Regions from separate parts of the Homo sapiens genome. Here regions 1 and 2 are each linked to region 3. The links come from fine-mapping of genetic effects on gene expression. A gene starts in region 3. Each other region holds a variant in brackets. All regions are shown on one strand. Distances are between the middles of the regions. Region 1 overlaps DGKD (diacylglycerol kinase delta). Region 2 overlaps DGKD (diacylglycerol kinase delta). Region 3 holds the start of DGKD (diacylglycerol kinase delta).

What was found. PIP is the estimated chance that this variant, and not a neighbour inherited with it, causes the effect. A credible set is the group of variants that fine-mapping cannot tell apart.
Region 1: its variant is the best candidate, but not a certain one, in a credible set for the expression of DGKD in blood mononuclear cells (TOPMed, PIP 0.74).
Region 2: its variant is the best candidate, but not a certain one, in a credible set for the expression of DGKD in vagina (GTEx, PIP 0.70).

The regions. Positions count from the first base shown.
Region 1 is chr2:233,457,597-233,460,268 of GRCh38, forward strand. It overlaps DGKD (diacylglycerol kinase delta), which reads left to right. Exons shown (of 30, transcript NM_152879.3): 22 at 688-801; 23 at 2,161-2,295; 24 at 2,598-2,672. Among named protein-coding and RNA genes, the nearest start is that of DGKD, 100 kb to the left of the region's middle. The variant C/T (reference allele first, on the strand shown) is at 1,598.
Region 2 is chr2:233,469,139-233,471,810 of GRCh38, forward strand. DGKD (diacylglycerol kinase delta) reads left to right here. Exons shown (of 30, transcript NM_152879.3): 30 at 233-2,672. The coding sequence ends at 322. Among named protein-coding and RNA genes, the nearest start is that of USP40, 96 kb to the right of the region's middle. The variant C/G (reference allele first, on the strand shown) is at 1,299.
Region 3 is chr2:233,353,058-233,355,729 of GRCh38, forward strand. DGKD (diacylglycerol kinase delta) reads left to right here and starts at 1,437. Exons shown (of 30, transcript NM_152879.3): 1 at 1,437-1,617. The coding sequence starts at 1,462. RefSeq lists enhancers at 887-946, 1,087-1,136 and a silencer at 1,387-1,626.

The DNA.
Region 1 (2,672 bases), 100 kb after region 3:
AGGTGTCTGGGAGGCCAAGACCTGAAGGATGAGTTGGAGTTGGCTAAGTTAGGTGGGCAGAGGAGAGGGGGAGGCTGTTCCAGGCAGAGAGAATTGCACAGATGAAGGCTCAGAGTCAAGACAGGGCAGGCACATGGAGGATGGGAGAGAGGTGCCCCGACTGCAGTGGGCAGCAGGGGCGTGGAGAGACAGGAGAGGGCTGCAGGGCCTGGGTCACACTGGGCTGTGTGAGCTGGGGAAGAAGTTTGGAATTTGTGTTAAGAACTGTGGGAAGGTGTTGATAGGTTTAAACCTGGTTTAAACCTTCCTTTGTACGTAATAGCGAATAGAAGTATTCAGCGCTTCCTGCACACGTGGTGTGTGCTGGCCCCAGTCCTGGCACTCTGCAGCGTTAACTCACTTGGCCCTACTGATGGCCCTGGAGGAGCGTGCCGTTAGTTTCCCCATTTTACGCATGAGGAAATGGGGGAGAGAGAGATTCAGTAACTTTGCCGAGATGAGAGCTGGGATTTGGTCCCAGGCAGCTGGTTTCAGGGCCTGCAACATGAAGCCCGTCAGGAGTGCAGTTACCTGGTAACTTCTCGCCAGCTAGGAGGGGCTGACCCCCAGAGGGAGGGAGTGAGGGTAGGGGCGGCCTGTGCTCGGGGATGTGTGGAGTGGTGGTCAGCTCTAACGTGTCCCTTGCAGACTTTCGCAGCTCCATCATTCGATGACAAGATTCTGGAGGTGGTCGCCGTGTTCGGCAGCATGCAGATGGCCGTCTCTCGAGTCATCAGGCTACAGCATCATCGGATCGCCCAGGTAGTGGCCATGGTCCTGGGGTGTCTGGCCGAGTCCCCAGCCCGGAGTGTGCTAAATTCTGGGGCAGTGCATGGAGCCTGGGAGGGTGGGCGCTTTCCAGGGCCATGTGGCTGCCTCATGTCCTGTCCTGGACAGCTCGTGGCCCCACTTCCTGGGCCAGAGCCCTTTCCTTGTGCTATGCTTGACAGTTAAATTCTCAAGATAACTCTTTTTAATTTTTTTTTTTTTTTTTGAGACAGAGTCTTGCTCTGTTGCCCAGGCTGGAGTGCAGTGGTGCAATCTCGGCTTGCTGCAACCTCCACCTCCCTGGTTCAAGTGATTCTCCCGCCTCAGCCTTCCGAGTAGCTGGGACTACAAGTGCCCACCACCATTCCCAGCTAATTTTTGTACTTCACCATGTTGGCCAGGCTGGTCTCGAACTCCTGACCTCAAATGATCCACCCACCTTGGCCTCCCAAAGTGTTGGGATTACAGGTGTGAGCCACTGCACCCGGCCAAGATAACTCTTTCAAAATGTGTATCCTGCTTGAACCACAGCCTTGCCTGTCCCCTCTGAGGTGGGATGAGATAGAGCAGACCCAGGCTGGACTCTGCCCGTGTCTGCAGCTGTCAAAGCCGCAGTGGGGACGGAGCCCATGGCTCTGATGTGGGGTGTGGGAGGATTTCCAGCTGGGGCCCTCGATCATGGTTCTGAGGCCGAGTGGTGAAGGGCTGGGGGTGCCCCCATGGCTTATTTCTGACAGCAGCGATGGGCTGAGGGCAGTCTTTCTGTGAGGATGGGGCAGGACTCTGTACC[C/T]AGGCACAGGCACTGGGGCGGGGGAGGGTGCTGATGACACCCACTGGCTGAACCCCACCCTGCGACTGTCTGGTGTCTTCCAGCACTCTGTCTACCCTTAGCTGTAGGCTGCTTGAAGTTCACAATTTTCACTCTTTGGCAATGTTTGTTGTTGAAAAGGAGGAACGGGATGATGATGGATGGCTCATCGTCATCCACTGTGCCATCTGCTCTTTTCTAGGGGTGTTTTCACGTGGCAGGGGCCCAGTGGCTTCTGGGAGCTACAACACCCCTGCCCCTGGGTTCTGACACCTGTTGTCTCAGCACCAAGGTCTCCTGCACTGACTGCTCAGTGAGGGGATGGGGCGGGATGGGGCGGGACAGTGGGAGAACAGACCCTCGGTTGAGTGACACAACAGCAGAAGGCTAGCTGCAGGCGGAGCGCCATCCCAGAGGCAGAGGTGGGGTGTCCTGCAAGGCAGGGACGGGTGTGTGGAGCAGGAAGGTCATGGTGGTGCTGATAGCACTTTTAAACCCCTGGGGGTTTTGGCTCAGCATGAGTAATGGCTATGATGTCTGCTCAGTGTCGCACGGTGAAGATCTCCATCCTTGGGGATGAGGGCGTGCCTGTGCAGGTGGACGGAGAGGCCTGGGTCCAGCCGCCAGGGTACATTCGGATTGTCCACAAGAACCGGGCACAGACACTGACCAGAGACAGGGTAAGAGCGGCTGCCCGCGGTACCTGGGTGGGGTACAGGGCTCACCTGTGGGCTCTTGTGTGCACTGTTAAGAGCTGGAGCTTTTTGTGTTTTGTTCTAGGATTTTTTTTTTTTTTAAGACACAATGATTAAGCTAATAGGGCAGTAATTTCTAGGACCATCTCCTTCCCCTAATGTTAAAAAAAAAAAAAAGTCCTATTTGTCTCTTTCTAGTTGTGATCTCGTTGGCATCCCCATAGTGTCTGTCGCAGTCAGATGCATGCTTCAGAGCAGCAGGTGTAATTGGGCTTTCGGGTCCATAGGCATTTGAGAGCACCCTGAAGTCCTGGGAAGACAAGCAGAAGTGCGAGCTGCCCCGCCCTCCATCCTGTTCCCTG
Region 2 (2,672 bases), 120 kb after region 3:
TCTTGGATTTGTCCTTGCTGATGGTAGTGACTAGAATGCAGGAACAATGGGCCAGGCATCTGTATGGTTGTTACTTTTAAGCTGTTTCCATCTTGTTTTACCGTTTTTGTCATTTTGGCTCTCATTTGTGTTCACAAGCCGAATGGGAAGGGCCGTTGTGGCAGGCCTGCTGTGGAGCCCTCTGGCCCTGGCTGTCTTCTCGGCATCCATGGCGGTGTCTTCTCTGTTGCAGGACCTGGGCGTGACCAAGGTGGGCCACATGAAGAGGATCCTGTGTGGCATCAAGGAGCTGAGCCGCAGCGCCCCCGCCGTCGAGGCCTAGCCTCTGTCCTCTCAGCCTGTGGCCTCCACATCCCCGCCGCCGAGGCCTAGCCTCCGCCCTCTCAGCCTGTGGCCTCTGCGCCTCCTGCCACTGAGGCCCTGGGCAGATGCTGCAGCCCGCCCCCTTCTCATGGTGCTACTTCCTCTGTCAGCTACAGAAAGCCTCCGTGACACCGTCCACCAGAGCTCTGGGGTCTCGAACATAACAACACAGCTACCTTTGAAACAACACTTTCTCCAGCTCAGAGTCACCTGGGGCACATGTGTCACGGCCACTCAGCTCTCGCCCGCCTGTGCTGTGGGCCAGGGAATCCAGCGGCGTCTGGCCTCCTGGGCACTGCTTGCCTGGCCTCGTGCTTGGATTGTCCCGGGGGCTCCTCTCCGTGTGTCCTTCTGTGGCCGCACCGTGTGGCTCCGCCTCCTGGCCCCCAGCCAGTTCTCAGAAACGTGGCTGGGGCCCAGCACAGCAGCCTGCAAGGGCCCCTGTTTGTTGATGCAGCTTTTGTTGAACAAAAATCGTGCTCTTTCCTGGTTTGAAAGTAGCATGGATGTTTCCAGTCTTGTTGATTGTAATTTGACGTGAAGAGAAAAAAAAATTCCTCCTGCGTGAGCCAAGGCAGCGGGTGCTGTTTCCCAGGCGGGGAGCCCCTCCCTGGGTGTCACAGGGCCTGTGCTCCTCCCTCCTCCATCCTCTCTCCTCCCGCTCCTCCCTCCCCCCACTGTGGGCTGGGGACGCCTGCCCTTCTGTCTCCGGACGCTCTAGGCGAGTTCAGCTTGGGGTGTGAGTGAGACAGCTTGCCAGCTGCATCCCTGCAGACAGAGGATGTGTGTCCACATGAGTGTTTCTGTGTGGGAAATGCTTCCTGGCTCTGGGAAACTTTTTCTGCCCATTCTGTGGTTCCCAGGGAGCGTGGCCCTGGTGGGCCAGGGGTGGTTTGACCTCTTCAGCCCGTCCGGTGGCCTGGAGGCCGGAGGCT[C/G]TCCTGAGTGTCTGCCCCTGCAGTGGCTTCTTGTCGCCTGCTGCTGGGCGTGATGTCGCTGGAGGTGCTGGCAGGGACTCTGATTTGGTGGTCCGCGCTGCCCCTGCCCTGCCTCTGTCCTGGCTCTGAACTAGTAGATGATGGTGCCAGAGGGCAGGGAGCTCGCCTGGGGAGAGGGCTGTGCCCCGTAGGGACAGTGCCCAGGTGAAGGATGCCCCTGGTCCTCCAGGGCACTGACTTTGCCCTTTTTTCCCGTTGATAGTCATGGCTCAGAGGTGCTTGTAAATGTCTTGGGAAGAGGTTTCTGTAACCCCTGCCCTGGTGTGAGGAGGAAATGGCTCTGGCCTGGCTGCCTGGCCGTGGCTTCTCTTTGGCTCCCAAAGAGAAGGACAGTGTTGGGAGTATCTGCCGTGGCTTCTCTTTGGCTCCCAAAGAGAAGGACAGTGTTGGGAGTATCTGCCGGCGCTGTCCAGGTCCTTTAGTCAGCGTCACTCCATCTGATGTGCAGAAGCTGGGCTGCACCTGCGGGGGTGGGCATAGACCGGGCTGGGTCTGCAGCAGCCCCTGGTCCTGAGCAGGCGGCAGTGAACAGCACTGGCCCACCTCCCACTCACAGCCCCTCTGTCCCCTCTGCAGTGCACCCAGGTGGGCCCCTCTGCGTGCCTTTGGGTGCTCCCCTCTCGTGGTCGTTCTGGCCCGAGGCCCTTAGAGTATGGAGGCTGAGCCAGGCCTTGGGTTTCCCCAGCACAGCCTCCTGTCGCTGCATGCGACGTGTTGGGATTTTTGGATGAAAGACTCTCCCACGCTCTGTTGGTGGACTTAGCTGCCTCACTGGAAGTGATGTGGGTGGAAGGTGGTTGTATGTTACCTTTTCCACCTCTCATTGTTTTCCCCAGAACATTGTAGATGGGGGTTGGCAGAGGGAGAAATAAGCCAGCCACGGCAGTCGCTTGGTTTCCCAGGTGGAATGGGCTAACACAGGAGATGATGGGAACCTGTCCCGCAGTCCCTGCATGACCATTGGCCCTGCTGGCCTGGCGATGTGGGCATCCTGGGGTTCTTAGGGTCCCAGAACAAGCCCCAGGCAAGCTGGAACTTGGGTGGGGAGGGGACATGAGGAGGATAAACAGCTGACTGTGGCTTCAAGGACATCAGGGCCACCCCAAGTCCTCAGTGTCCTACTCCTGGCAAGGAGTTGGGTTTGGATCAAAAGTGTTTAAAATTAATATGTTGTCAGTGATTAGAACAACACTGTTTACATAAAAACCATTTTTCTAATTCTAACAAGTTAGAATGTGAGGAAGGAATGAACATGAGTGTTTAGGAACCTGCCCTTTGGTGCTGGGCTGGCGTCCCGCACTGGGGTGTCCTCGC
Region 3 (2,672 bases):
TGGCAGCTGCTAAGCCACATGCGGCTACTGAGTCCCTGAAATGTGGCTCCTGTGGCTGAGGAACGGAATGCTGAATTCTAACTAATTGAAATTTAAGTAGCCACATGTGGCTAGTGGCTATAGTACCCTGGGGCACCATGGGGCCTTCGGCCTGTCCCGGACTGTTCCTGCCTTAGGCCTTGTCCTCCTCTGTCCTGGCCGTGAGCCCATGCCCCTGGCCGTGTCCCCATGCCAGATGCCACTCTGCAGCCCCAGGTCACTGCCCAGGGCGGCGCGGCCAGCGAATGCCTATTGGCAGGCGAGGTCTCTAGCGGCAGCCCTTTGACAGGGAGAGGGCACACCTGGGCAGTCCCTTACTGATTTGCCCCTCAGAGCAGGGCAGACAGATGGACAGCATTTCCTCTGGGTGGCACCAAGCCCTGCTCCACCTGGATGGCACCAAAAACTTAGCTGATCTCATCTCCAGCTTCGCTTCCTCCTCTTCTGCCCAGAGCAGCGCTGGACCCCACCCGCCCACCATCCAGCAGCCCCCCTGGGAAACATGGGACTCGTTCTGGTCACCTCTGTCTCCCTCCAGTCGCTGGTCACTCCCCACCTGGATCTCAGTCCACGTCTCTATCTCTCAGCCCCTCGGTAATCCAGGGCGTCCACCTGCCCTGATAACTTCAAAGCCCGGATCACAGGCCCCAGCGTGGTGACCCAGCCCCGCCCAGGGTTAAATCCCTCAAGGGCTTCCTGCTGCCTTCCATCCCCTTATCTGGTTTCCAAAGCCCGCTTCGACCTGCCCGCCCCGAGGCTCATATCTTAATGCCATTTTCCTTGCTCTAAGCACCAGCTTCCCTTTCTTCCCCCGTCTTCGCCCAACACTCGTTCTTTCTTGCCTCCAGGCCTTTGCACAAATCTGGTCTCTGCCTAGAACATGGTTCCCTCTCTAGTCACAACTCCTGCTCACATTTTCCATCTCTCCTTAAGAACCGTTTTCTCCAGGAAGCCTTCCCAGATGGAGCGGTGCATCCCAGCTCTGGCGTCCCGAGGCCCGTCCCAGTACCGGGGTCTCTTTCCAGCACGCGCGCGCGCATTCGAGCTCGCCCCAAACTCGGCCACACAAGGCTGGGCAGGACAGACACAGCCCCAGCCTGCCTGAGGTTACCTACATTCTGATGCGGAAGAGTAGAGATGTTTTAAGAAGTGAATATAGAAACAAGAACACAAACGGCGTTCCAGAAATAACACACAGAAGCCACGGCCCGGAGAGGTGGGCGGGGGGCCCGGGACGCTTCAGGTGGGGGCGGGGAGGGGCCGCGCGGCGCCGTCTGCAGCTGCGCGCATGGCCGGCAGGGGGCGCGGCGGGGAGAGGCGGGAGGCCGCCCCCACCGCCCCCGGCCCGGCCCGCCCTCGGCCCCGCCCCTCCCGCCGGCCCCGCCCCGCCCCCGCCCGCGGTGCGCGCGCTGGCCCGGCAGCATGGCGGCGGCGGCGGGCGCCCCTCCGCCGGGTCCCCCGCAACCGCCTCCGCCGCCGCCGCCCGAGGAGTCGTCCGACAGCGAGCCCGAGGCGGAGCCCGGCTCCCCACAGAAGCTCATCCGCAAGGTGTCCACGTCGGGTCAGATCCGACAGAAGGTGAGCCCGCGGCGCGGCGGCCCGGGCGCGCGCCCCTCACGCCGCGGCAGCCCCGGCCGAGGCCCGTGGCCCTGCCCGAGCGGCCGCCCAGGCCCGGCTCGGCCCGGCCCGGGGTCCCGCGGGCGTCACCGCCCCTGTCGAGCGTGCCCCGCCGCTGTAACGGGCCGGCGCCCCGGGCGGAGCGCGCGGCCCCCGACGGACGGCGGGCGGCTGTGGGGCCGGGCGGGGGGCGCGCAGGTGGGCGCCCCGGGCGCCGCGCGCTGGGCGGGGGGCGCGCGCCGAGTTGGGCCGCGAGGACCCGGAGGAAACTGAGGCCTAGATGCAGGGGACTGCGCTCGTGCCACCGAGCGGGTCCCACGCGGGGGCTCCCGGCTGCGCCCCGCGGGCGTCCGCGGTCCCCAAACCCCGGTTCTGCACGTTTCTCAGGAGCGGTCGGGTGGTGTCCCGCGAGTGCCCTGCAGACTTCCCTGTGGTGCCCTCAGAAGTCCGCTCGGACCCGGGTGCGAGGGATCACCCCTTCACCCCTTCATCCCAAAAGGGAAGGAAGGGATGCGCGTTCAGTGACCGTCTCTCTCAGCAAAGCCGGGACCGCGCACCCGCTTGGCACCCAACTCTCCACGGAGAACTCCTGACGCTAAATGTTAGATAAAGACGCACGTCCTTTTTGCAGGAGGAAAGTTGCACCGTTTGTTTTCCCATTGTGCTTCCTATTGAAAACAGCTTACGGTTTTTGCTCCAGGTGAGCCCGCCCGGTTAGAACACTGCTTCCTCAGGCAGGTGGCTGGACAGGTGGCTGCGAGCAGGCTGGGTCCCTGGGGCAGCTCTGGCAGATCCGGTTGGCACGGACTTTCTCCTCCTGCTGCAGTGCGCTTTTCCTCCGGGGCGGATTAGGTTCAGCCGTTCCCTTCACCGTGGGAGCCTTCTCTTCTGTCAGCCTTTGATACCTGCGATGGGGGAACCTGAGGTCCTAACATGTTACAAACAGGTTTGTTGTGAAGTGCTCCAGTTATTCAGCAAATAGGTACCGAACACCTGCTTTGTTCCGGGTATAACAG